Regions from separate parts of the Homo sapiens genome. Here regions 1 and 3 are each linked to region 2. The links come from fine-mapping of genetic effects on plasma protein levels. A gene starts in region 2. Each other region holds a variant in brackets. All regions are shown on one strand. Distances are from middle to middle.

The links. PIP is the chance, under the fine-mapping model, that this variant and not a neighbour inherited with it causes the effect. Protein levels are from antibody-based Olink assays in UK Biobank. Linkage for the fine-mapping came from a reference panel and not from the study's own genotypes, which makes the PIPs less certain.
Region 1: its variant is fine-mapped to the plasma level of the SUSD4 protein (UK Biobank, PIP 0.98).
Region 3: its variant is fine-mapped to the plasma level of the SUSD4 protein (UK Biobank, PIP above 0.99).

What each region holds. Positions count from the first base shown.
Region 1 is chr1:223,270,286-223,278,468 of GRCh38, forward strand. All of the region lies in intron 3 of SUSD4 (sushi domain containing 4), which reads right to left. Among named protein-coding and RNA genes, the nearest start is that of SUSD4, 90 kb to the right of the region's middle. The variant T/G (reference allele first, on the strand shown) is at 4,348.
Region 2 is chr1:223,360,450-223,368,632 of GRCh38, forward strand. It overlaps SUSD4 (sushi domain containing 4), which reads right to left and starts at 3,727. Exons shown (of 9, transcript NM_017982.4): 1 at 3,608-3,727; 2 at 2,829-3,011. The coding sequence starts at 2,976.
Region 3 is chr1:223,245,243-223,253,425 of GRCh38, forward strand. The region is part of intron 5 of SUSD4 (sushi domain containing 4); the gene reads right to left. Among named protein-coding and RNA genes, the nearest start is that of TLR5, 110 kb to the left of the region's middle. The variant C/G (reference allele first, on the strand shown) is at 3,399.

The DNA of each region.
Region 1 (8,183 bases), 90 kb before region 2:
ACTTCCTCTGACCCTCCCACCATGCTTCTGACCTGCGCACACACCTGGCGAAAGAGTGCCGAAAGGAGTTCTGTGAACCTCTGCCCAAGCAAGCTGTGAGGGCACAGCCCTCTGGAGCACGGCTAACAGGCTTGGGGCACAGCCCTGCAGCTCAGCCTTCCCTGAGGACACCTGTCATCAGGTCTTCCCTTTGCCCATGATTTCAACAAAGAGAGTCTGGGGTGAAGAACTGTGTTCTGGCTTTGGTTTTACCTTTCATATTTATGTTTCAGGCCGCGAAAAGGGGTTTTCTTTTCCTTTTTGAGACAGAGTCTCACTCTGTCACCCAGGCTGGAGTGCAGTGGCATAATCTCAGCTCACTGCAACCTCCACCTCGCAGGTCCAAGAAATTATTCTGCCTCAGCCTCCCGAGCAGCTGGGACTACAGGTGCATGCCACTGTGCCCAGCTAATTTTGTATTTTTAGTAGAGATGGAGTTTCACCATATCAGCCAGGATGTTCTCGAACTCCTGACCTCATGATCCCTTGGCATCCCAACGTGCTGGGATTACAGGGGTAAGCCACCACGCCCAGCCTGAAAAGGGGTTTTCTAACTGTTCATGTTTAACAAACAGTTTTCCTGCTAGCATAGTTGAGTTCCCCAGAATCAACCCCAATCCCAGAATAATCCTAACTGGGGTCACAAGATCATTGACAATTCTTTGCACACTGCTGCTGCCTTAATAGAAAATGTGAATTACGTTTTTTCAATCGCACTCTACAGAAATTATTCACAGCAAATAAAAACACATTTATCAAGGCATCCGTCTGTAAAATCTTGGCTGTAAATAGGTACTGCGGCAGTAATTTACACATTGAAACAACTATTTTCATGATTGATTTAAAACTTGTTCAGCAATTAGCTGGTATACTCAGGAGGTGACCAGCTATAGAGAATAAAGTCAATGGATAGAAGCGTCCCTTTGGGCATTATGGACACGTGGACATTGGCTGGCTGGGAGCAGAAGCACCCAAGCCTTGTTTCTAAGAGTGATTTCTCAGCATAGTGTTGTGTAATGTAGAACGCTTTCAACTTCTAGTTAGAGCTAAAGTTTCCCCAAACATGGCATGGGGACTATTGCAGAATATAAGACACAGGGTTAGAGGGAATTCACAGCTTCCTGAATCCCAGTGATGATGTGCCCTCCTGAAAGAAGAGTCACCATAGGGAGTGATGCCAGGCCAATTTACTATGTGGGAGGAGCCACATATCAACTAGGGAGTAAGAAGTAGGGTCCAAATCCCAACAAGGGGAAGAGGCCAGGAGGGGCAGTGCCCTAGGAATGAGTACAAAACAAACACAGATCAGCTCTATCAAAAAAGTCAACCTTGACAGAGAAAACATTAACCAGAGCCTTTATGATTTCTTTACCCACAAAGTCTGGCATCTGATCCTCCCCCTAAAGGAGGGTGAAGTAGGAAGAAGGTATCTAGAAAAAAGTATGTGCCCAGTGAGTTCTCTGTAGTAGTGAAAAACCATGGACCTTCTTTCCACAGAAAAAAAGAATCTAGGATCTTTAGTGTCTGACAGTAAATGTCTAATATCCATCAATTCTGAAGTCTCAAACAGAAATAACATAATTTTCTATAGCATAAACTAATCTAGTCAATAGAAAGAATTTTGAAGGCAGGTGGCTCACCCCTATAATCCCAACACTTTGGGAGGCCGAGGTGGGTGGATCACCTGAGGTCAGGAGTTTGAGACCAGCCTGGCCAACATGGTGAAACCCCGTCTCTACTAAAAATATAAAACTTAGCCAGGCGTGGTGGCACATGCCTATAATCCCAGCTACTCGGGAGGCTGAGGCAGGAGAATCGCTTGAACCTGGGAGGTGGGGGTTGCAGTGAGCCAAGATCACACCACTGCACTCTACAAAAATATTCATCAAAATCTGCTTCTGTCCTATTGAATCTGGTCAACAATTAGAACTTACGTGTATGAGGCATAAATAGGCCATTCAGGGTGTAACTTGAAGGATATCAAAGCCTTCCATTCTGGAAATCATCTTTCACCAGCCCAACACTGTCATTATTTCTATATCCTGCTTCTGGTATCAATGGGGATTCAATATAGTGAATAAATAAAAGAAGGAGTAAAAGATCCTAAGGCAGCATTGCATATTTATACCCAAGTACAAATTAATTTATCAGATTAGTTAGCAGAGAGCAGCGCCTAAGGGATGGAGCAGAAATAGTAACAGTAAAAGAAATCTTAAAGAAAATGTGCCATACATAGGATTTACTGTTCTTTAAAAGTTAGTTATACTTGAAAATGAATCCAATTCCTTCAACACACCAAGTTTTGACATTAATACTCCCCCAAAACTGTTCCCAGGAACATGAATACATAATACACGCTCAAGAGATTCACAATCCACAGAGTAGATTAAAGGCTCGAACGGTCTTACTGTAAAGAATTCTACTTAATTTTGTTTAAACCAGCATTTGTCAAGCTTGTTTATTCATCCAGCTGTTCATTCATCCATTTTATGAATTACAGAGCACTCACTCTAGGCTCAGGGTGTCCTGGGTGCTGGGGATAAAGAGTCAAGGGCCTTACTCTTACAGCACTTGCATGGGAGAAGACTGCAAATGGGCAAATTAACAGCTAAAGGTGCTAGAAAGTAGCAGGCAACACTCACTGCCACGATGAACACATAGCAAGGTGACATGATAGGGACTGACTCAGGAACTCTTTTAATTTGGGTAGATAGGAAAGGGGCCCCTGAGGAAATGACATTTATTAAGCTGAGATCTGAATGACAAGAACAATTTAATTATGTATGGGTCTTGGAGAAGAACATGTTAGGCAGTGGCAACAGCTAGTGCAAAGGCCAGGAAAGAGCTTGGTGTCCTTAAAAACACTAAAGAAGACCTGTGTATTTGGAATATAGTGACCAAGAAGGGGAGGGACAGGCCAGATCATGCAGGGCTTTGTAGATTAGGGCAGGGAATTATTTTAGTGTGATAGGGAGTTACTGGGGTTTGTTAAGCATGGGCCAAGGCATGATCTGATTTATATCCTCAAAGGGTTTCCCATATGTACAGTAAAGGATTAACTTACCCAAGGAGAGGTTTAGGCATTTGCCCTCAGCTCCTGAGAGGTAACCTTTAGCCCCTGGAATGTCTGGCTTGAGATGAGTGTCTTTGTTTGTCTGGGGGCTCTGGGCCACGCTAGACAGATTATGCCAACAGTATGATGTATGGCAGGGGCCTTCGCCATGCCATCTGGTCCATGCTAACATGGATTTTAGTCCATGCTAACATGTGATTTAAGCTTTGGGTCATGGGCCATGCAGTATCGGGTCAACTTCTGGAGGGAGAGGGAACTAAGAAGATCAGCCACACTGTGGTCAGCCATGCCCACGTGACTAAGCCCTGATTAAAACTCTGGACACTAAAGCTTGGTGAGTTTCCCTGGTTGTCAACACTTCGTGTATATTGTCATACATTGTTGCTGGAAAAAAGAGGTGTTGTCCATATAGCCCCACTGGAAGACAACAACTGAAAGCTCATGTCTGGTGACTCCTGAACCCTGCCCTACGCACCTCTTCCCTTGGCTGATTTAATCTATGTGCTTTCATTGTAAAAAGCCTTAGCCATGAGTAGAATAGTTTTCCTGAGTTCTGTGAGTCTGAGTTCCTGAGTCCTAGTGAATTTTTGAACCTGATGGTGGTCTCAGGGAGCCCAGATTTATAGCTGGTATCACAAGTGAGGGGGGTCTTGGGGACTCTGAACTTAGTACCACAGAATGCTTTTTTCACTTACTATCCACTAACATCCCTCAGGAGCACTGTTCCATATCAGTGCCATTCCACCCTTCTGCTGTTCTAAAGAACTGTCATTCCAGCACAGCTCAGAGCACACTGTCCCAACCACCACAATTTACTCAGGATCGGGCTGAAGAAGCTGAATGAAACCAACTGAGACGAATGATTTGACCACCAGCAATTAACGAAAGGCAGAGAAAACGAGGGGCAAAAATCAATGCTCTTCAGAGATGACTGGAGAGAGAGGATGCTTCATAGAACAGGAGGCACCACCATGTGGGATAGTTTTGCTTTGTGAGCAGGGCTGGTCCAGGTTGTTTCTTTCATATTTAAAGGACACTGACTCTTTGAAACCTGAAGAAGAACTAGAACCAGACACTTAAGACCTTTTGGCTTGCAGCTGAAGGTAGTTAGGCCCTGGCTTAAACTCACTGAGAAAAAGCCCCGTGAAAAACAGTTGGTCAAAGAAAAGTTATTATAATAAGCATGCTTCTTGTACTTAGTGTCTTTGTCTGGTGCATAGATTGGAATATTTTAT[T/G]TATTTGTGGTTGACAAAGGCAATTAGTAGATTCGTATTTCATTATTTAAAACATTCATTTCTATATTTAACGCATTGAGGGCAATTATTTGTGGGTTCTTAGCTATTCACTTGGAGGGACTGAGACTGCTACACATTCTTCTAAGCACACGTGGAACATTTACAAAAAATGACCATACCTGGGCAATAAAGAAAGTCTCAAAAAAATTTCAAAACAACAAAATCATAGAGCTCTTTTTTTTCTGGCCACAATGAAATAAAGATAGAAATGAATAGTTAGAAAATCTCCATATTTTGGGAAACTGAGTAGTACCTTTCTAAACAACCTATGAGTCCAAAAATACTGACTGTTCAGTGCTGTGTACACTGCTATATGTATTTTATTTCATATATTTTTTAAAAGTTAAAACAACAACAATAGAATTAATCCAGAAAGAAGAACAAGGACATCACTGCCTATGTAGCTGTCTTTCCCAGTTCATCTGGAGCCTCTGGGCCTGGCAAGTAGAGAGTGCTTAACGGAATTCTGGGGAGTGAACGACTAAACATATTGGGGGTGGTGCTGAAATTCTCAAAAGCATAAAACCTCAAATATTTGCCAGCAAATTTTCAGAAGACAATTTGACCTCTGAATGTAGGTTATGTAGGTTGTTGGAAAAACTGGGTTTGATTCAGAGTTTTGTCCTAGAAGGCAAATCTAACCTGATTTCTTGCTTTTCTCTTAATAAACCCAATTTTAATTATTTTATCTTTAAAGAAACTTTAAGGTCACTTTCCACCTTCTGGAAAGTTCAACAACAAGGAAGTGACAGAAAGCACTTTAAGGCCAGAGGTGAACTCACAAGAAAAATAAAAGAAGGCATGTCAAATGCCCTTCTCATGGGCTGATGACTTCCAGAGGTTCTACCCCATGTCTCATGCTCTGCTCATAGAGTGCACATGGTAAGCATCTCAAGGAATCCTCTGAGGCTCCACAACATGAGAATCACCTGGAAATGCCTGGTAAATTCCGATTCTTTGTTGCATACAAGCATCTGAGCTTGGGGCCTGGAAATGTGCCTTTTTTTATGGCTCCCAGCCCCCGCCCCCGGCAATTACCATGAAGTCAAACACTGAGAACCACCATGTGATGGGCTATGCAAGGTCAGTCTGCGTGACTGAATAGACTGAAGAATAGCAATCAAAACTCAAAGGCTGGCTTGGAATTTAACAAGCGCTGGCCCATCTCTTAGCAGGTGTCTCAGACAAATGTAATAAAGAAAAACAGAACCTAATCCGCGCAAGCTGGGGCACCAAGGCACACCGAGGCCTCACACTCTTGCAGACCCAGCATGGGGTGCCAAGGAGATCTGAATCAGTAATAGGACTCACAGGATGCTGCCTGAAAGCCTCGGTCAGCCCCCAAACTGCTCAAAGACTGGCATGAGAGAAGATGAATTTCATCTGCAGTGGGTTTGGAAGGACCCGAGTGGGGGTAGGTCTGCATTTTTCATAAGTAGCCAACATAATTCTGGATAGTTTCAGTTGCAAGCTTGTGAAAAACTGCTTTCTGGGGAAATCCCCCCAAGTCAGTTTGGTGTTCAGGGTTGCTAACAGTCACTGTGCGACCTTTATACAGGCTCTGACAAGGATCTGTGTATGTGCTGATGATGTTGTTGTTCTCCATTTGCCTGACAATTCTGGGACTTTGAGCAACTCCCTACCTCCACAGCCCCTGTACAGAAAGAGTGAGGTCTCAGCACTCACGTGTGCAAGACCGCATGAGGCAGCTGGTTCAGGAGTAACAGCTGTCAAGATTTGCACTTACTGGGGGCTTGGTTGCACAGGCTTGAGAACCCTTGTCTGTGGTGGTCCACCTGTCATCTTGCAACCATCATAACTGATCACTTCTGTCACTTATCTTTGCAGGATTTGCCTCGACCTGACCTGATATTATTTCCTATGGATTTTCTTTCCCTTTCAAGTCTGGCCACATTTAAGTTAAATAAATATTTTAGAAAACAAAAACTAAACTCACATGGAAGCCACAAGGGAGCAAGTACAGGATAGCAGTGGCTTCTGTTAACAGCAGCATAAATAAGAAATGACAGTGGTCCTGGGGACAGGTAGAAGCATCCCTCTGCTCCTTCCCTTCTTAGGAGATGGAAAATGAGGACAGAATATCTTGGGGGAAGACATGCAAATACTTGCCCTTGTGGGCACAGGCTGTCATTTCTGATAATCCACATCTAAGGCAATAAGAAAGAAATTTTAGATGATAGAGAATGCACATGAGAAAAAAAAAATCCCAAATAAAATATTTTTAAAGCATCCATCTGTTTTGATGAAGCCTCTGGAGCTAGAAGACAGCTCACTTAACATATAAGTAACTGGAAACATGAGTATGACCACCCCGCTTTTGAAAAATGCCTGCACCCCACAGTTTCAATGAATAAAGGAGTTATCTGCCAATTTTACTGCCAGCTTTAGCTTATGAGTTGAGCTGAATCTTTTAATTAAAAATTTATAACGTAATAATAATACTTAAACTCATATTGCACCTTTTCCCCAGGAAGCTCAAAGAACCTTCTTAACATCAAATTATTCATCTTTTATAGCAATCCCGGTCAGGTCTATGGGAGCCAAAATATTTTAGCGAGTACTTAAAACTAATGCTTGATGAATGGATGATATTTTTTTTTTTTCCTTTTTGCACTCTGCAAGGAACCGAGACAAGGTTAAGCATGGAGACAGAGCAAACTGGAGCTGTGGCAGGAACAGCTCCTCCTCCTGTGCTCTATGCCACCTTTAGCCACAATCAGGTAACCAGGGACCCTGGGACAAAAAGCACAGGTGGAAGGGATCCCTGGCTGCACACTGAAATTACCTTGGATCCCTTGAAAAGAGGTCCCTGGGTGTGCCCAGGCATAGGTTGAAATACCTATGCCTGGGCTCCCACTACCCAGAACAATTAAAATAGAGTCACTTGAAGTGGGTCTCAGGCACTTCTATTTTTAAAAGTTCTGCAAGTGATCCTGACAGGCAGCCTGGGTTGCACACCACCAGGATATAGAAAGAGCACTGGACAAGGAGTCAAGACACTGGTCTAATTCCCAGCTTTCCTGCTGTGTGACTTCTATAAGTCACTAAAGCTCTTATATGGTTCAGTGTCTCCATTTGGAAAATGACAACACTGACATTTCTGATTCTAAGAATTAAACATCTCTAAGGATCTTTGTCGAACACTAGAGAAAATTATGTTATTCTCCCTTCTTACAAAGCAATATCAGACCATATCCCTAAATTAGTGAGTCTCAAACATTTTTATGTGTAAGAATCAGCTGGGAGATTTTTTTTTAAATGCAGATTCCTTGGCCCCACCCTTAGCATTCTAATGCAGGAGGTCTGAATATGTACTTTTCCTAAGTTCTGATGCAGGTAGTCCTTGGCACATACTTTAAGAACCAGTCCCGAGTTCCAAGATGGCTGAATAGGAACAGCTCCGGTCTATGGTTCCCAGCATGAGCGACGCAGAAGACAGAAGATTTCTGCATTTCCATCTGAGGTACCAGGTTCATCACACTGGGGCTTGTCAGACAGTGGGGGTAGGACAGTGGGTGCAGCCCACCGAGTGTGAGCCAAAGCAGGGCGAGGCATCACCTCACCCAGGAAGCACAAGGGGTCAGGGAATTCCCTTTCCTAGCAAAGGGGAGGGGTGACAGATGGCACCTGGAAAATTGGGTCACTCCCATCCTAATACTGCGCTTCTCAAACGGTCTTAGCAAACGGCACACCAGGAGATTATATCCCACGCATGACTGGGAGGGTCCCACACCCACAGAGCCTTGCTCGTTGCT
Region 2 (8,183 bases):
TTCCTTAACGACAAAAGACAACCTGGAGAGAGCCACCCAAACATCATCTCAGGACAAGTCAGGCTCATAAAAGCTTCCCTAGGGTTCAAAGAACTGAATCGGAGCTCTGGCTTTCTAAGACAAAGCATTTCATTTTTGATGGAGTTCCTGTTCCTACTTTTCTTTGATCATTTTCTCAATTTCTGCCTTTCTAGTTCAGGCTTTTTCTTCAATACTTGTACTGGGCACATGCTTTTTTTTTCTCCTAGCTGAGACGATTATATCTTGCCATTGCGGTGTTCCTTTTCCATTGAAAGCAATCAAAAATGAAAATCCACATTTCAGAACAGTGTCCATTAAATATACACTTTTTTGTGGATGAAAAAAAAGCACTCTCCGAGGGCTGATTTTCAGCTCTGTGTATCACCTGAAGATTAGATATTGGGTGAGACTTCTGCTCCTCACAGGCCATTTGCATTCAGTAATTGAGAATGATGGCAGAAAGTCTGGAGCAGAAGCAACTTATTTTAAGGAATGCCTTGGTCTCAAGCATGGCTAATCAAAGTGTGGTCCTTGGATCAGTGGTAACTGCTTCACCTGGGAGCTTATTAGAAATGCCGAGTCTCAGGCCCCACTCCAGACCAAATGAATCAGCATCCACCTTTTAACAAGATCCCAGGTGACTTGTATGCACATTAAAGTTTTAGAAGCACAAGTCTAGAGCTAAGGTGTATTTGCTTTTATTGCCTTATTGGAGCCTCCATGTGCATTTCTTTCCTAAAAAAGAAAATCTCTGTATAATGAACTCTATAGGACATCCCCCACCACCCTTGCTTGCCCAAACGGTTTATTCATAGAGGAACTGTGAAGTGATAAATACTCTTCCAGAAATCACACTCTCAGCCTGAAGGAGTTCAAAGTGAAACGCAGCTGATGGCTAGCTTCCTGCAGCATATGAGTGCCTAAAAAGAAAGAGCTCTGAGACTGACAGGTGACAGGCAACCCTTACTCTCATCCTCTTCTCCAAGGCTCTGGATATTTTTGCCTGGCATGATCCCCCACAGGAAGGCAGGGAAAAAAGACATGCTATAGGAACCTCATAGGTGACTGTCATAAGACCGAGGTGGCCATGATGTACACTGAGCTCTGAAATGTTGAGGAGGATGCTCTGTAAACACGACCAAGCAGAACCAAGAGCACAAAACAAATCTCAGCTGTGCTCAGACCTCACCCATCCAATAACAATAGTCAAGACAAATGTAAATGAACCTTGATTAACTAGTCTGTCATCTACATAAGAGAAATGGACCAAGAAGATGGAAAATCATGTGGACCTGGTTTGAGAGAATGAAAGCTAGAACTGGGAGGCAAAAGCAGAGAGGAGGGGAGGAAATGATCCAGATCCACGCAATACTGTTCTGCCCGTCTATTCCCACTCATATGTGAAGCAGAGCTGGTGTCCACGGCAGATTAGAGGCTGTGACCAGAGCCCTGGCAGGGCACACAGGTGCTGGCCTGGCCTCACACTTGACCTTCTCCTCCATGAAGAGGAAGCTTGCCTCAGAGAAATCTCTATAAAAAACTACAAGCATCCAAAAAGTTATTCCTTCTTAAAAAAAAAATACAAAAATAAAAATAAAAACCAATGTCCACCCAAAGCAAGTGTTTTCTCACTAATTTTGATAGATATGCACATTGCAATAAACACCTTTATACTCTGGGCATCTTTCAGATGTCTAAGTGGAATGCCTGGGTTATTGATTACTCTGTGTTAAAGCCCAACTTATTACACCTCTCCTCCACTTTTGCTAATTTTTCACTCATTTTTTTTCCATTTTCACCTTTGAATTCTCTGAAACAGCAATATTTTAAAACGCTAAAATGGTTTATTTACATCAGTCAATACTTGCTTTTCAACCAAAGATAATTTATTTATATATTAACAGTATCTCAGCTCCTTTTAACGTCCACATCAGCAAGCTCTAGAGAACGTTTGCAATGGACAGGAATGATGGACAGCAATGAGCAGTGGAGGCAGGGAGACTAGGCTCTCAAATTCAGACAGGAACTCCATCTGTCTTCCTCTACCACAACTAAAAGATACCCCTCCCCCAGAACCAAATATGTTATAGATTAGCCGCCCACGGAGGCTGAGGCTATCAATTTTATTTCAGCTAACTTCTACTTCATAGAAGAGCAACTGACTTTATTCCCTGAAATCATACCTCGATGAGCAAAGCAATCTGTCAGAGGCACACCTGAAAGAATACCTCTGCACCTCCTCCACGCCCCCAACATACACATACATGCTGCACACACAGGGGAAGGGAAAGTTAACTTTCAAATAAACCTGCCCCGCAGCCAGTCTGACCACGTTTCCAGACCCTTCACATTCTCAAAGGTGGTTCTTAAACTCTTGCTTAAATCCAGAGGCTGAAATCTGACCTCTATCTGCTGAAGGCATTGGCAAGAGGTCCACAAATACACCACTCCCCACTGCCCCCACCCCCCACCCCTCCCCCCCCCGCCCCCGCTTCCTTGGCCAAAGTGGGAATAATGGGCCAGGCTTTATTGTCTTTCCTTGGGAGAAGCCAGGCCCGGAGGCTGGTGGGAAGCTCCAGACAGAATGTGGGTGTGTGAATCTGTGCGGGCTCCACATGGGAATTTTCAGGGAACTCCAGCGGTTTCGGAGAAGGGCGGCCATAGGCTGGGACGCAGGCACCCTCGCGTTGTCAGATCCTCCTGAAGTCTGGGTGTATGGGGGAGGGGTGCAGGGCTGTCCTGGCAGCTAGGCTCTTTCTCCCCTCTGGGCCATCCCCAGGCCCTCCCACCACAGCTGGGTCACTCACCGCCCGTGAGCTGTGCAGGGCCGAAGCACAGCGCCAGCTGAAACCACAGGATCACGGCCAAGAGTCTCTGGGGGGACTGAGGTTGCTGCTGCTGCTGCTGCTGCTCTAGAAATCCATCTCCATTGCTCGGGTTCATTCCATGATACATCTTTCATCCACAGAGGGCATCCAGCTTGCAAGAGTCTGCAACCAGAAGCGGAACACCACAATAAGCCAGTCTGTCCGGGCTCGGGGGCCACGCTCCCCCTCCTCCGCTCTGGGACCCGGCGCCTCGGCTTCCCAGGCTCCATCCTGGTTCCTCCCCCGCGCGGCCCCCGCCCCCTTTCCCACGGCGAGGTCCCCCGCCTTCCCCCGAGCCGGGTGCACTGAGTAACAGCCGCCGTGGGATGCTGCGCGTGCTGGGGGATGGAGGACAGGAGGGAGGGCAGGGGTTAGCGCACATTGGCTCCGCGCCGGTCCCCGGGATTCAGCAGCTGTGCCCACCACAGGAAAGTCTAGAGCCTCCCCGCGTCTCGGGGCCGCGAAGACACTTTTCCCTGGGCCTATACATTTCACTCTGGGAATCTCACAATGTGGCACCGTCTCCCCCAGCTACTTCTCTGGTTTTCCTCGGGATTGGGATCGATCCTACTGCCCCAGTCCCCAGTGAGATTTCTCTGCGCTGTCAAAAAAAAAAAAAAAATTCTCCCTTGGGGAGCTGCACCAGGCACCAACTCCCCCTCCCCGGCCTGCGCGCGCCTCCTCGGAATGGAAGACCCTTCCGGGACTGTCGGTCTTACCTGTGGGTCTCATGCATGCAGCTTCCTTCCCTCCTCCGCCTCCTCCCCCCGCCAGTCTAACCCGCATCTGTGCGCGACCTCTGCTGCCGCCGCTGCGCGAGCGAGCGAGACGGAAGCTTCGGCGGCGGCGCTCGGCTCCAGCTCCCCCGCCCGCGCGCTCCCTCCCCAGGCGCCCCCGAGCGGGCGGGTGTTGGGGGAGGACGGGAGCCCGGCCGCGCGCCCCCGCGGAGGCGCCCGCGCGCCCGCTACCTGAACTCGCGAGCGCGCGGCGGCGGCGGCGCGGAGAGAGGGAGTGGGTGGGGACGGGGTGAGTGGGGGGGCGGGGACGGGGCGAGGGGTGCGCGGGCGCGCGAGCACGCGCCTCTGCCAACCCAGCCGGCGCCGCGGCGTGGCCGGAGACTGGCGAGGGCGGGGACGGGGAAAGGGGCCCGCCGCCGCGACCAATGGGAAGCCCGCGCGCCTGCACCTGTCGGGGCGCGAGGCGCCGGCGGCCGGTCTTGCACACGCACGCAGCTCGGTCGCCCCTTCCCCGGCGCTGGACTGCAGCCCCTGCCCCGGCTGCGCGCCAGCTCAGGTGCCCGCCCCGGCCTCCGCGCGGCCTCTGGTGCCCCCAGCCCGCGGCGCGGCGCGGGAGAGCGCTCCGCCCTAGAACTACCGCCGCGGCGGTGGCTGCAGACCCGGGGCGAGTGCGCGGCCGGCAGCTCCCAACCCCAGAACTCTCGCCACAGACCCGGTTAACTTGAGCACCGCCAATTGCCCGAGTCTCTTAATTTCCCGCGTTAACCCCTCCCCGCTCCCATCTCCGCCGAAGCTCTGCGCGTCCCCAGGGAGCCCGAAGGACCATCTGAGGCGGCTGAGAGACACTCTCCCCCTCCCCCACACCCTTGGTATTTTCCCTCTGCCAGCCGCAGGTGTTGCGAGTGAGGACCCCTGTCCGGTCTTGGAGATGCGCGGGGCCCTCGGAGCCTTGGCCTGGGAGGCGCTCCCGGGGGCGGGGAGGCGGGGGTAGCGGGTGATTGGTGACACGCAGAAGGTTGGGTACCTGGAGGAGGGGAGGCTTCCGGGGTCGTAGATGGGAAGCCAAGGGGGTCGGTGGTAATTGCCCTCCCAGCCCCAAGTGGAGAGAGTTGGCCTGGTCGGTCCCCTGTCTCTGCGCCGATTCTGGTGTCGGAGCTCAGCCCGCAGTGGTTGCAGCTCTCACTCGCCGCCGGCTCTGATCGCCCGCGGTCGGTTTCAAGATAGGGAAGCCCACATTCCAGCCACAGTGATTAAGAGGTGTCAGCTAATGAGGTGGCGTCCACCGGCAGCGCTTTAGAGCCAGTGACACTCCATGATTCTGTAGCAATTTGTGGATATGAAAACTATGTTCCTGATACAGCTACTAAATCATCCTTTGCTTCTATCGACTTTCCCAAAATCTCACATACTGATGGTAGTTGGGAAATTACAGCTTTTATACTGTGTCAGCTCTTACTGGGAGTAATTTTAACACATTCTTTCAGGATAGATTAGCTTTTAGTAGATAAGTCAAGCTCCGTTATTTTGTTTTTTGCTTTTGCGTGTGTGTGAAATTGAGATGGCAGCTTTGCACAAAATAAACAAGATGTTGACTAGCACAAGTCCAGTTTTGCTACAGCTTGTACTTTGGGACCCCAAAATCTTAGTAGGGGACCATCCACCTTCCCAAGGTCCTGTGACTGTCCTCTACAGTTTGTATATTTATTCCATTTTTCTTTCTTAGTAAATTTTCTAAATCTTTTTAAATATCCACCAAATCAACAACGGTCAGAAATATTTGTTGACCATGCACATGTTCTTAACAATTATAAGAGATATATCTAAGTGCCATTGAAATCTGTTCTTTGGCTGGAGTACAATCTAATTTTAACAGAGAATGTTGGGACTGAAAGGAACATTCAAGTTTATCTGATCCAAACATGGGATCTATGCTTGAGTTTCCTCTCTGACATTTCTAATAAGTGGTCATTCAGCCTCACTGAATACTCATCAAGGTAGCCTGTTTATATTTGCCAGCAGGTCTCTTAGAAAAGTCTTTCTTATATTGAACTGAAATCTACTTCCCTGAAACCTTTACCCACTGATTCTGGCTCTCCTCTGTGGGCCCACGCAGCTAAATAGAATTCCTCTTTCTTAAGAGAGCATCTCATGGCTTTGGAGATGGCTTCGTGTTCCCTTGAGTCTTCTCTTCTCTGGGTCACGCATAGCCATTTCCTTCAGTGCGACGATTCCCAGACTTTTCACCAGCCTGTGGCCTTTCTCTGACCCAGTTTCTCAATGATATCCACCCCCAGCAATCAAAGTTTGTTTCCAGAAAGAGGCCCTACTTTCCCTCTGTGGGTTCTGACCAGTACAGGCCGGTACTGTTGCTTTCTGTATTTTAAACAACTTGCTTCTATTAATTCAGCTGAAGAAGACAAGCATTTGGAGGGCAACTACAGCATAACATATTGTTATTATTATTATTATTTTTAATTATTGTTATACTTTAAGTTTTAGGGTACACGTGCACAATGTGCACGTTAGTTACATATGTATACACGTGCCATGCTGGTGCGCTACACCAACTCGTCATCTAGCATTAGGTATATCTCCCAATGCTATCTCTCCCCGCCCCCCACCCCACAACAGTCCCCAGAGTGTGATGTTCCCCTTCCTGTGTCCATGTGTTCTCATTGTTCAATTCCCACCTATGAGTGAGAATATGCAGTGTTTGGTTTTTTGTTCTTGCGATAGTTTACTGAGAATGATGATTTCCAATTTCATCCATGTCCCTACAAAGGACGTGAACTCATCATTTTTTATGGCTGCATAGTATTCCATGGTGTATATGTGCCACATTTTCTTAATCAAGTCTATCATTGTTGGACATTTGGGTTGGTTCCAAGTCTTTGCTATTGTGAATAGTGCCGCAATAAACATACGTGTGCATGTGTCTTTATAGCAGCATGATTTATAGTCCTTTGGGTATATACCCAGTAGTGGGATGGCTGGGTCAAATGGTATTTCTAGTTCTAGATCCCTGAGGAACCACCACACTGCCTTCCACAATGGTTGAACGGGTTTACAGTCCCACCAACAGTGTAAAAGTGTTCCTATTTCTCCACATCCTCTCCAGCACCTGTTGTTTCCTGACTTTTTAATGATTGCCATTCTAACTAGTGTGAGATGGTATCTCATTGTGGTTTTGATTTGCAATTCTCTGATGGCCAGTGATGGTGAGCATTTTTTCATGTGTTTTTTGGCTGCATAAATGTCTTCTTTTGAGAAGTGTCTGTTCATGTCCTTTGCCCACTTTTTGATGGGGTTGTTTGTTTTTTTCTTGTAAATTTGTTGGAGTTCATTGTAGATTCTGGATATTAGCCCTTTGTCAGATGAGTAGGTTGTGGAAATTTTCTCCCATTTTGTGGGTTGCCTGTTCACTCTGATGGTAGTTTCTTTTGCTGTGCAGAAGCTCTTTAGTTTAATTAGATCCCATTTGTCAATTTTGGCTTTTGTTGCCATTGCTTTTGGTGTTTTAGACATGAAGTCCTTGCCCATGCCTATGTCCTGAATGGTAATGCCTAGGTTTTCTTCTAGGGTTTTGATGGTTTTAGGTCTAACATTTAAGTCTTTAATCCATCTTGAATTGATTTTTGTATAAGGTGTAAGGAAGGGATCCAGTTTCAGCTTTCTACATATGGCTAGCCAGTTTTCCCAGCACCATTTATTAAATAGGGAATCCTTTCCCCATTGCTTGTTTTTCTCAGGTTTGTCAAAGATCAGATAGTTGTAGATACGCAGCGTTATTTCTGAGGGCTCTGTTCTGTTCCATTGATCTATATCTCTGTTTTGGTACCAGTACCGTGCTGTTTTGGTTACTGTAGCCTTGTAGTATAGTTTGAAGTCAGGTAGTGTGATGCCTCCAGCTTTGTTCTTTTGGCTTAGGATTGACTTGGCGATGCGGGCTCTTTTTTGGTTTCATATGAACTTTAAAGTAGTTTTTTCCAATTCTGTGAAGAAAGTCATTGGTAGCTTGATGGGGATGGCATTGAATCTATAAATTACCTTGGGCAGTATGGCCATTTTCATGATATTGATTCTTCCTACCCATGAGCATGGAATGTTCTTCCATTTGTTTGTATCCTCTTTTATTTCATTGAGCAGTGGTTTGTAGTTCTCCTTGAAGAGGTCCTTCACATCCCTTGTGAGGTGGATTCCTAGGTATTTTATTCTCTTTGAAGCAATTGTGAATGGGAGTTCACTCATGATTTGGCCCTCTGTTTGTCTGTTATTGGTGTATAAGAATGCTTGTGATTTTTATACATTGATTTTGTATCCTGAGACTTTGCTGAAGTTGCTTATCAGCTTAAGGAGATTTTGGGCTGAGACAATGGGGTTTTCTAGGTATACAATCATGTCGTCTGCAAACGGGGACAATTTGACTTCCTCTTTTCCTAATTGAATACCCTTTATTTCCTTCTCCTACCTAATTGCCCTGGCCAGAACTTCCAAAACTATGTTGAATAGGAGTGGTGAGAAAGGGCATCCCTGTCTTGTGCCAGTTTTCAAAGGGAAT
Region 3 (8,183 bases), 120 kb before region 2:
TTTTATCTAGTATCTGTTTTTATTGTGTATTATTGGTCTGCAACGTATTAGAAAACAGTAACCAAATCACTGGTCCCTTCACTACAGAGAGATGAGAGGCCCTAATCCGATCATAAATGCATACAGGAATGCACGATGCATAAAAACTAGGAAGGACTCGGTCCAGGAAGTGCTGGAGGAGGATGTGCCTGGCAGAGAGGATGGCACATGTGAAGGTGGGCTGGAGGCAGTGAAGAGAGGCCGATGGTGGCTGAGTGTGCAGGAGACAGAGGGCTACACAGCACGAGGGATGGGAGGCAGGCGGGACACTGTGTGTGCAGCTGCATGGAACCACGGCAAGTAGTTGGGATTTTATCATAGTGTGAAGGGACACTGCAAAGAGTGGGAACTGGCATATTTCTTAAAAGCTAGCTGGGTGGAGAACAGGCTGTTAGAGAGCAGGGATAGACATGGCAGGACTGCCAGGAAGTGGCTACCATGCCTGGAGAGATGATGGCGGCCTGGACCAGGACAGTGGCAGCCAATGTGGTGGGAAGAAGAGTGACTTGAATGTTATTCCTCTGTTTCTAAATAGGGCTTGGTGATTAGGCGGCTAGGAGAAAAAGAAGGATAACTCCCAGATTTCTGACCTGGCTCGATTGTGGTACTACTGACTATGCTAGGTTTTTGTTGGGTTTATTTGTTTCATGGCAAGGGAGTGGTACAGAGCTTGGTTTTGCACTGGTCGGGTTTGAGCTTCCAGTGGGAAAGTCATCCAGGTCAGTTAGGCAGCCAGAGAAAGAGTCTGGGATAAATGCAGAACTCAGGAATCATGAGCATAGAAATAATCTTTACAGCCACGGGACTGCACGCACTCACATAAGGGGAGAGGGCAGACAGAAAAGGGAACGGGACCCAGTCCAAATGCTGAGACACCCTACAGGGACGAAAAAGATGGCAGAGGAGACTAGGGCGCATCATGGAAGCCGCGAGGGGAGACTGTCCCAAGGAAGAGGGAGCAGCTCCTCACAAGCTGAGAAGGATGGAAAAAGAAGAGTGGCCATTGGATTTGGCCAAATGGGAGTCAGTAGAGACCCTAAGAAAAGCAGCTTTGATACAGTGGCAGAGGGGAAGCCATTCTGCAGTGAGTTGGGGAGTAAAAGGGGATGGAAACCTCAGGTGACTCTTTAGAGAAGTTTGCTGCAGGGAAGCAGTAAAGCAGAGGCCGGAGGGTCCAGGGAGAGCCCCGCCCCCACCCCAGAGCTCTTGATCTTGTTAAGACGTTGGCAGGAGTGGTTCAACACAGGGTACAAGGTTGGTAATCCAGGCAGGAGGGCAGTCATTCAGGAGGAGAAAGATGTGATCTTCCACATGAGTGGAAGGAGGGGCTGGCCTCTGACAGGCGTAGGAGGGGCTGGAGGGAAGCATGAGTGCTGGACACAGGCCTCAGCAGATCGGTGGCCAGGGTGGTGGAGATGTGAGTAAGCTGCCCTCTGAAGGCTCCCCTTTTCCGAATGAAGTGTGAGGCAAGGCCACCACTCAGAGGTGGGAGGGGGGCTGAGATGAGAACTATGTATCACTTATCACAGTCCTTAACCAATTTATATGTTTCATTACATGCAAAATAATAAAATGAGGCTTAAAACCAGTGTGTGCCTTGCAACTATCCATACAAATAACTCCAGGGCATGGGGCAGGGGAAGCAGAAGAATGTAGAATATTTTAACTTACTAAATGAATATTTAGAATGTACAATGAATGAATACTAATGTAGTATTATAGAATATTTTAACCTACTAAATCCTTCTGAGCCACTGAGCCCAGGTGCTTTGACTGAGTATTTTCATTCTTACTAGTTCCAAAGGTCCATACAGCCCCCCGGGTGTTCTTCATGTAGGAAAGACTTGCTCCTTTAGTCTGTGCATTCACATCTACCCCACACAGCTCGTGGGAGAGGCTGCTGGTTGCTCACCATAACCCATGTTCCACGAGCACCCAGCTGGTCCACATTGCCCACTGTCCCTTGTTTCTCTAAGTTCTAGCCAATGGAATATGAAGAGAAATGATAACTACTACTTTCACGCTTGATCCATGAAGCCTTCCCATGCTTCTCTGGCTGCCTAGAATGGAAATGATCTCCTAGGGGACCTCAGAAGCCCACCCTGAAGCCAGCAGAGCTTCCACTGGCCCCTGAATGACTGGGTGGAGAAGAGGCACTGGCGGATCAATATTCACTCAATGCCACTAGGTGAAAATAAACTTCTATTTTGTTTGAGCCATCATCCCTTTTTGGTAACCTTCTTACAGCAGCGGTCTACCATATACAGTTGGTATAAGGAAGAAATAACAGATGTGAATCTGCTTTGTGAAACAGCAGAACATGCATGCTCCAGATGTTTGTTGCTATTATTACTGTCACACCTCTTTCTGCCATGTTAGTGCTGCATTTGAAGAGTGTAATAATGAGTTAAGCCACTGGTTCCTCAACCCTGGCTGCACAGAATCACCTGGGGAGCTTTGCCTAATTGGTCTGGAGGGGGTCCTGGGCTTGGATGGGTCTTAAAGCCCTGGGGTGATTCTAACGGGTAGACAAAGTTGAGAAGCACCGTCCCCACAGTTGCAATGGTCAGGAGACCCCCTCCATCCCCTACGTGCTAAGGATGGATGGTTTACAACATTCAGTGGAGCCAGTATGCAAATTAAATTGTCATGGTATCTGGTCTGGGTCTTCACCTTTCACCGGACTCTTGCTATATGAATTGCAGTCCATGGACTGTCCATTTTGGGATCAACTAAGTGCTTATTAGAAATTGGTACTCTCTAGCAACACCTACTCAATCAGAAACTTTATTTCAGCAAGATTCCCAGGTGATTCACATGCACAGTGCAGTTTGGGAAGTGAAGTGCTGTTCCAGATCATGAGGAAACTCTGTAGCTGAGCTCAGTAGTAAAGCTGACTCTTAATGCTACGGTCTCAAGTCTCAAGTTGGCCTTGAGGAGCGTGGAGAAGTGGCAGGAAAGCCAGTGAGCCTGTATACTGAGTGCAAAGGCATCGCATCAAGACAGCCCAGCATGTTGTCTATGTGGCTCTGAGAGGGAACAGGAAGACAGGGACTCTGCTCCCATATTGTACAGAACCACCCAACCTCTGCCTGCAGGAGTTCTGCTGAATTCTAATCATCAAAACTGCCATTGCACCAGCCATCCCCAGTCTGATCTAAATTTGGGTAATGATTCCAGGAAGTTGCACGGAACCCTCTGTACCAAAGTCCTGGCCATCTCCATGACTACGTCTGAAACTTTGCTTTTAGCTCAGGGAAAATCAATAAACATTATACAGCACATTACATTTTCCACTTGTGTTTTGTTGTAACAACACAGAAGGCCAACACATGTGTCTACTGAAGGAAGCCAATGAT[C/G]ATGAGGCTGGGGCTTTGCTTGTTTGTGAGCAGGATGGAGCATGGTGTTTACCTACTCAGAGATGTGCTGACAGATCAAATTTAAGATCAATAGTACCCAGCAGCGCTGAGGGAGGGGCTCTCACCTGCTTTCCATCTCTGAGTCACTACGTTAGGATGTCCCTGAAGGAATACAAAATGCATGTGATGACAACTGTGAAACTTCACTGAAAAAAAAAAATGGCTTCACATAAGAAATCTGAAGTGTGCCTAGTTTCGAAGCCACAAGGAAGCCACAGAGGAGCACACAGGTGAGGGAGCAGGTGCAAACCCGTGATTTCCTCTGACAGCAGCGGGGAATGGCTGGTGCTGAAATCAAAAGCTGACACGTGTTTCTGTGTTCTGATGAGGTTGCTTGCTTTCTTTGCATTGATAGGAGCCACAGTGGCTACACTGAGGTCAGTCTTCACCACCACAAGGTGAAAATAAATCACAAGACATCTGTGGCGTCAGAGTGTTTTGACGTCTGTGAACATTTTCCAATACATGATCCCCCTACAGTCAGGACTCCTAAAGGTAATTGGGGCATCTGAATTTTTTGTAAGGGAAGGAAATCAGGGGCACAAGATTAAAATGGAGCGTGTGTCCCACCATGTAACCCAGGAAGCCCACAGGTAAGGGAGCATTTAGAGTGGATCATTTCTGACCCTCTCTGCAATCAGCAAACCCGTCTATTATCAGAGATGACACTGAAGTTAAATGTTGCTAGTGTATCCACATACTGGACCAAAGTGCCACACAGACACACATACATTCATGTATACAATTTTCTGAGCCTCCAGTCTTCCTCCCATAAATTTTTAGGAAAATCCTTAGTGCCTTCTCATTCTTGTCTATTAGCAAGTCCTAATAGATGAGGAAATACATAATTGAGTAGTGAGTTAAGAAGAGGAGGAAGCAATTGGTCATGCTTTGTTCCTAGCTATGCTTCAGTGTATGTGTGTATGCACTTATGGGTTCTATATTATAGTTAGTTCTATAATAAGTTTATATTATCCATAGAAAATAAACAGCCACAGTTTCCACTAGCAAAGGTAATTCTAAAGTTTACATGATAGAATTTTATCAGTATTTCTTAGTGTTCTGCAAAAAACATAAAACAAAAAATGCATGCTATTCTGTGAAAGGCACCATGCTTTTCTGACATCTGAACAAATTTAAGAAACACTGGCTTAGAAGACATGGACAGTGAAAAGAGAGGAAGAAAGGGAAAAGTCAGCTAGGAGAACAGAATAGGAGAAAGTGTGAGGGTGAGAATGTGAGAAAGGACAGGCTAAGAAGACATAAGAAAATCAGTGGATTAATGAGAGACTCTAGAGAGGCAGCTTTGCACTGCCTCTAGTGCAAAGGTGCAAGAGTGCAAAGGTGCACTTTCCTGGGTTCACATCCTGGCTCAAACACTTAGTGGCCATGACCTTGGGCATTTTACTTTCTCATCTTATTTTCATTTTCATTCATTTTACTTTCATTTCTTTCTGAGCTTTGGTTTCCATCATCTGTCAACAGAAATAGTAATACCTACATTGCAGGAAATTTATAAGAATTAGAAATAATATCCGTAAATCACCAAGCACAAAGTGCCTGGCACAAAAGGAAATGCTCAATAAAAAGAGACAGTGACTATTACTAGCTACATTACAGGCCAGTGAGATGAAATGAGAGCAGTAATGACATTTCACAAGAACGTACTATGAGGCAACATATGCACATTATGTCACTCAATCCTAACAACAATTTTGCAGAGCAGGTGTTGCTATTGCCTCATTTGCAAAGATAAGGGAATTGAGGCTGAGAAAGATGAAGTTATTTGCCCAAGGTCATCTAGCAAACTAACAGCGAGCTGGGACAGGACCTTATGTGCTGCTGACTCCAAAGCTGCCATATCTTACTGAGTCATGCCATGGGGTTTTAAGTGAACACAGGAGAAAGGGAGCATAGTGCCTCCCAACAGCCAAGTGGAAGAGCAACGATTTCATTATCTGCTAAGACATGTATTATGCACAATGGGGTTAGAGTTCGGAAAAGCCTTGAGGCCTCCAGAGCTAGAGGAAAAGAGAGCTGGAGGAACCCTGACAGATACAGGGAAGCCTCTGTTTGGCTCAGCTGGCATAAGCAGGGTGCGGTGTACCGGGCTAGAGGCAAGGTTAGCTCAGGAAGGGGCTGTGGGCAGGCCAAAGGATGCTGGCCAACTGGGGTTTGGGAAGATTCGAAGACAGCCCTTTAAACCTGGGAGCAAGAGCTAGAGGGAAGATGGAAGGGAGTTTGCTTCTTCCAAAGCTAAGGCAGGGAGAGCATGTGCAGTGGATCGAATTGGGTATCCCCCAGATTCTTACACTGAAATCCTGGTACCTGTGAATGTGGGCCTATTTGGAAATAGGGTAACTGCAGATGTAATTAAATTGAGGTCATATTATAGTAGGGTGGGCCCTTAATCCAATATGACTGTTATGTTAGTCTGTTCATTGTATTGCTATAATAGAATATCCAAGACTGGGTAATTTATAAAGAAAAAAGGTGTAATTGGCTCATGGTTCTGCAGGCTGTACCAGCATGGCTCCATCATCTGCTTCTGGCACAGGCTTCAGGAAGCTTATAATCATGGCAGAAGGCAAAGAAGAACAGGTGTGTCACATGGCAAGAGTGGGTTCCAGACATGGGAGGAAATACCACATGATTTTAAACAACCAGATTTCATGTGAACTCAGAGCAAGAACTCACTCATCACCAAGGGGATGGCACTAAGCCCTTCATGAGGGATCCACCCCCATGATCCAATCACCTCTCACCAGGCCACACCTCCAACACCGGGAATCAAATTTCAACATGAGATTTGGAGGAAATAACATCCAAAACATATCAACTTGTGTCCTTATAAGAAGAAGAGGCAACAAAGGACATGAACTCATCATTTTTTATGGCTGCATAGTATTTCATGGTGTATATGTGCCACATTTTCTTAATCCAGTCTATCATTGTTGGACATTTGGGTTGGTTCCAAGTATTTGCTATTGTGAGTAGTGCCACAATAAACATACGTGTGCATGTGTCTTTATAGCAGCATGATTTATATTCCTTTGGGTACATACCCAGTAATGGGATGGCTGGGTCAAATGGTATTTCTAGTTCTAGGTCCCTGAGGAATTGCCACACTGTCTTCCACAATGGTTGAACTAGTTTACAGTCCCACCAACAGTGTAAAAGTGTTCCTATTTCTCCACATCCTCTCCAGCACCTGTTGTTTCCTGACTTTTTAATGATCGCCATTCTAACTCAGCAAACTATTGCAAGGACAAAAAACCAAACACCGCATGTTCTCACTCACAGGTGGGAATTGAACAATGAGAACACTTGGACACAGGAAGGGGAACATCACACACCAGGGCCTGTTGTGGGGTGGGGGGAGGGGGGAGGGATAGCATTAGGAGATATACCTAATGTAAACGACGAGTTAATGGGTGCAGCACACCAACATGGCACATGTATACATATGTAACAAACCTGCACGTTGTGCACATGTACCCTAGAACTTAAAGTATAATTAAAAAAAAAAAAAAAAAATATATATATATATATATAAAAGAAGAAGAGGCGAGACACACAGAGGGAAGACGGCCATGTGAAGACACAGACATCAAGGGAGAACTCCATGTGATGACCGAGGCAGAGGCTGGAATGAAGCGGCGACAAGCCATCGAACGCCAAGGAATGAGGCAGCAGCTGAAACCAGGTTGGGGATCGTTATGCTCCAGGGACAGTAGAGTCCCCCACAGCTAACTCCAAGGGCCACAGAGTCTTTAAAAATGTCAAGCAGAATGGTAGGCAAAGGTCCCATTGGCATGCTGCTTTAGCCATGGTTGGCTATAGAATTCTTGGCTTCCCAGCTTCCTGAACAAATTAACTTTTCTTCCCAATTCAAAATAATTTCCATCAGAATAATATACTTATAGTATGAAAATACAGACTGATGTAGGCACAGGTGTTTACTTGTGATAGCTTGAACTAAGGACTAGTTTTAAAATATGAATTTCCATATAATTGGCTTTTTTTTTTAAACTCCAGTCATGCTTCCCCTTCTTAAGGCCTGGACCAATGAAATCCCTTCCTAGGAATGGAGAAGACGGGGTCAGAAAATGCATTAGGGGCCGGGCGCAGAGGCTCATGTCTGTAATTCCAGCACTTTGGGAGGCCAAGGCCTGAGGTCAGGAATTTGAGACCAGCCTGGCCAACATGGTAAAAAACCCCATCTCTATTAAAAACACAAAATTAGCCAGGTATGGCAGTGCAGCCTGTAGTACCAGCTAGTTGGGAGGCTGAGACAGGAGAATCGCTTGAACCTGAGAGGCGGAGGTTGCAGTGAGCCGAGATTGCACAATTGCACTCCAGCCTGGGTGAGACAGAGTGAGGCTCCGTTTCCAAAAAAAAAAAAGAAAAAGAAAAAGAAAATTCATTAGGTTGTCATCCATCAAAGAACAAACTGGCCAGAATGTAAACAAAGTCCTGGACTTTTCTTCAGAAGCCACAAGAAAAAAAATGTGCCATGGGATGAAGGCTCTGTCCTCTCTGCACACTCTAACTTTAGAGGATGTGGGCACAGTTCGGAGTCAGGCATTATCTTTTTACAGAACGCAAGCCAAAAACAACAAAAACTTGCTTCAGTACAAAAAAAAAAAGAAAATGATCATGAACATAGGCATGATGGTTACCATTTCTATGAAAAAAATGAATGACATGAGACAAAAAGATAGG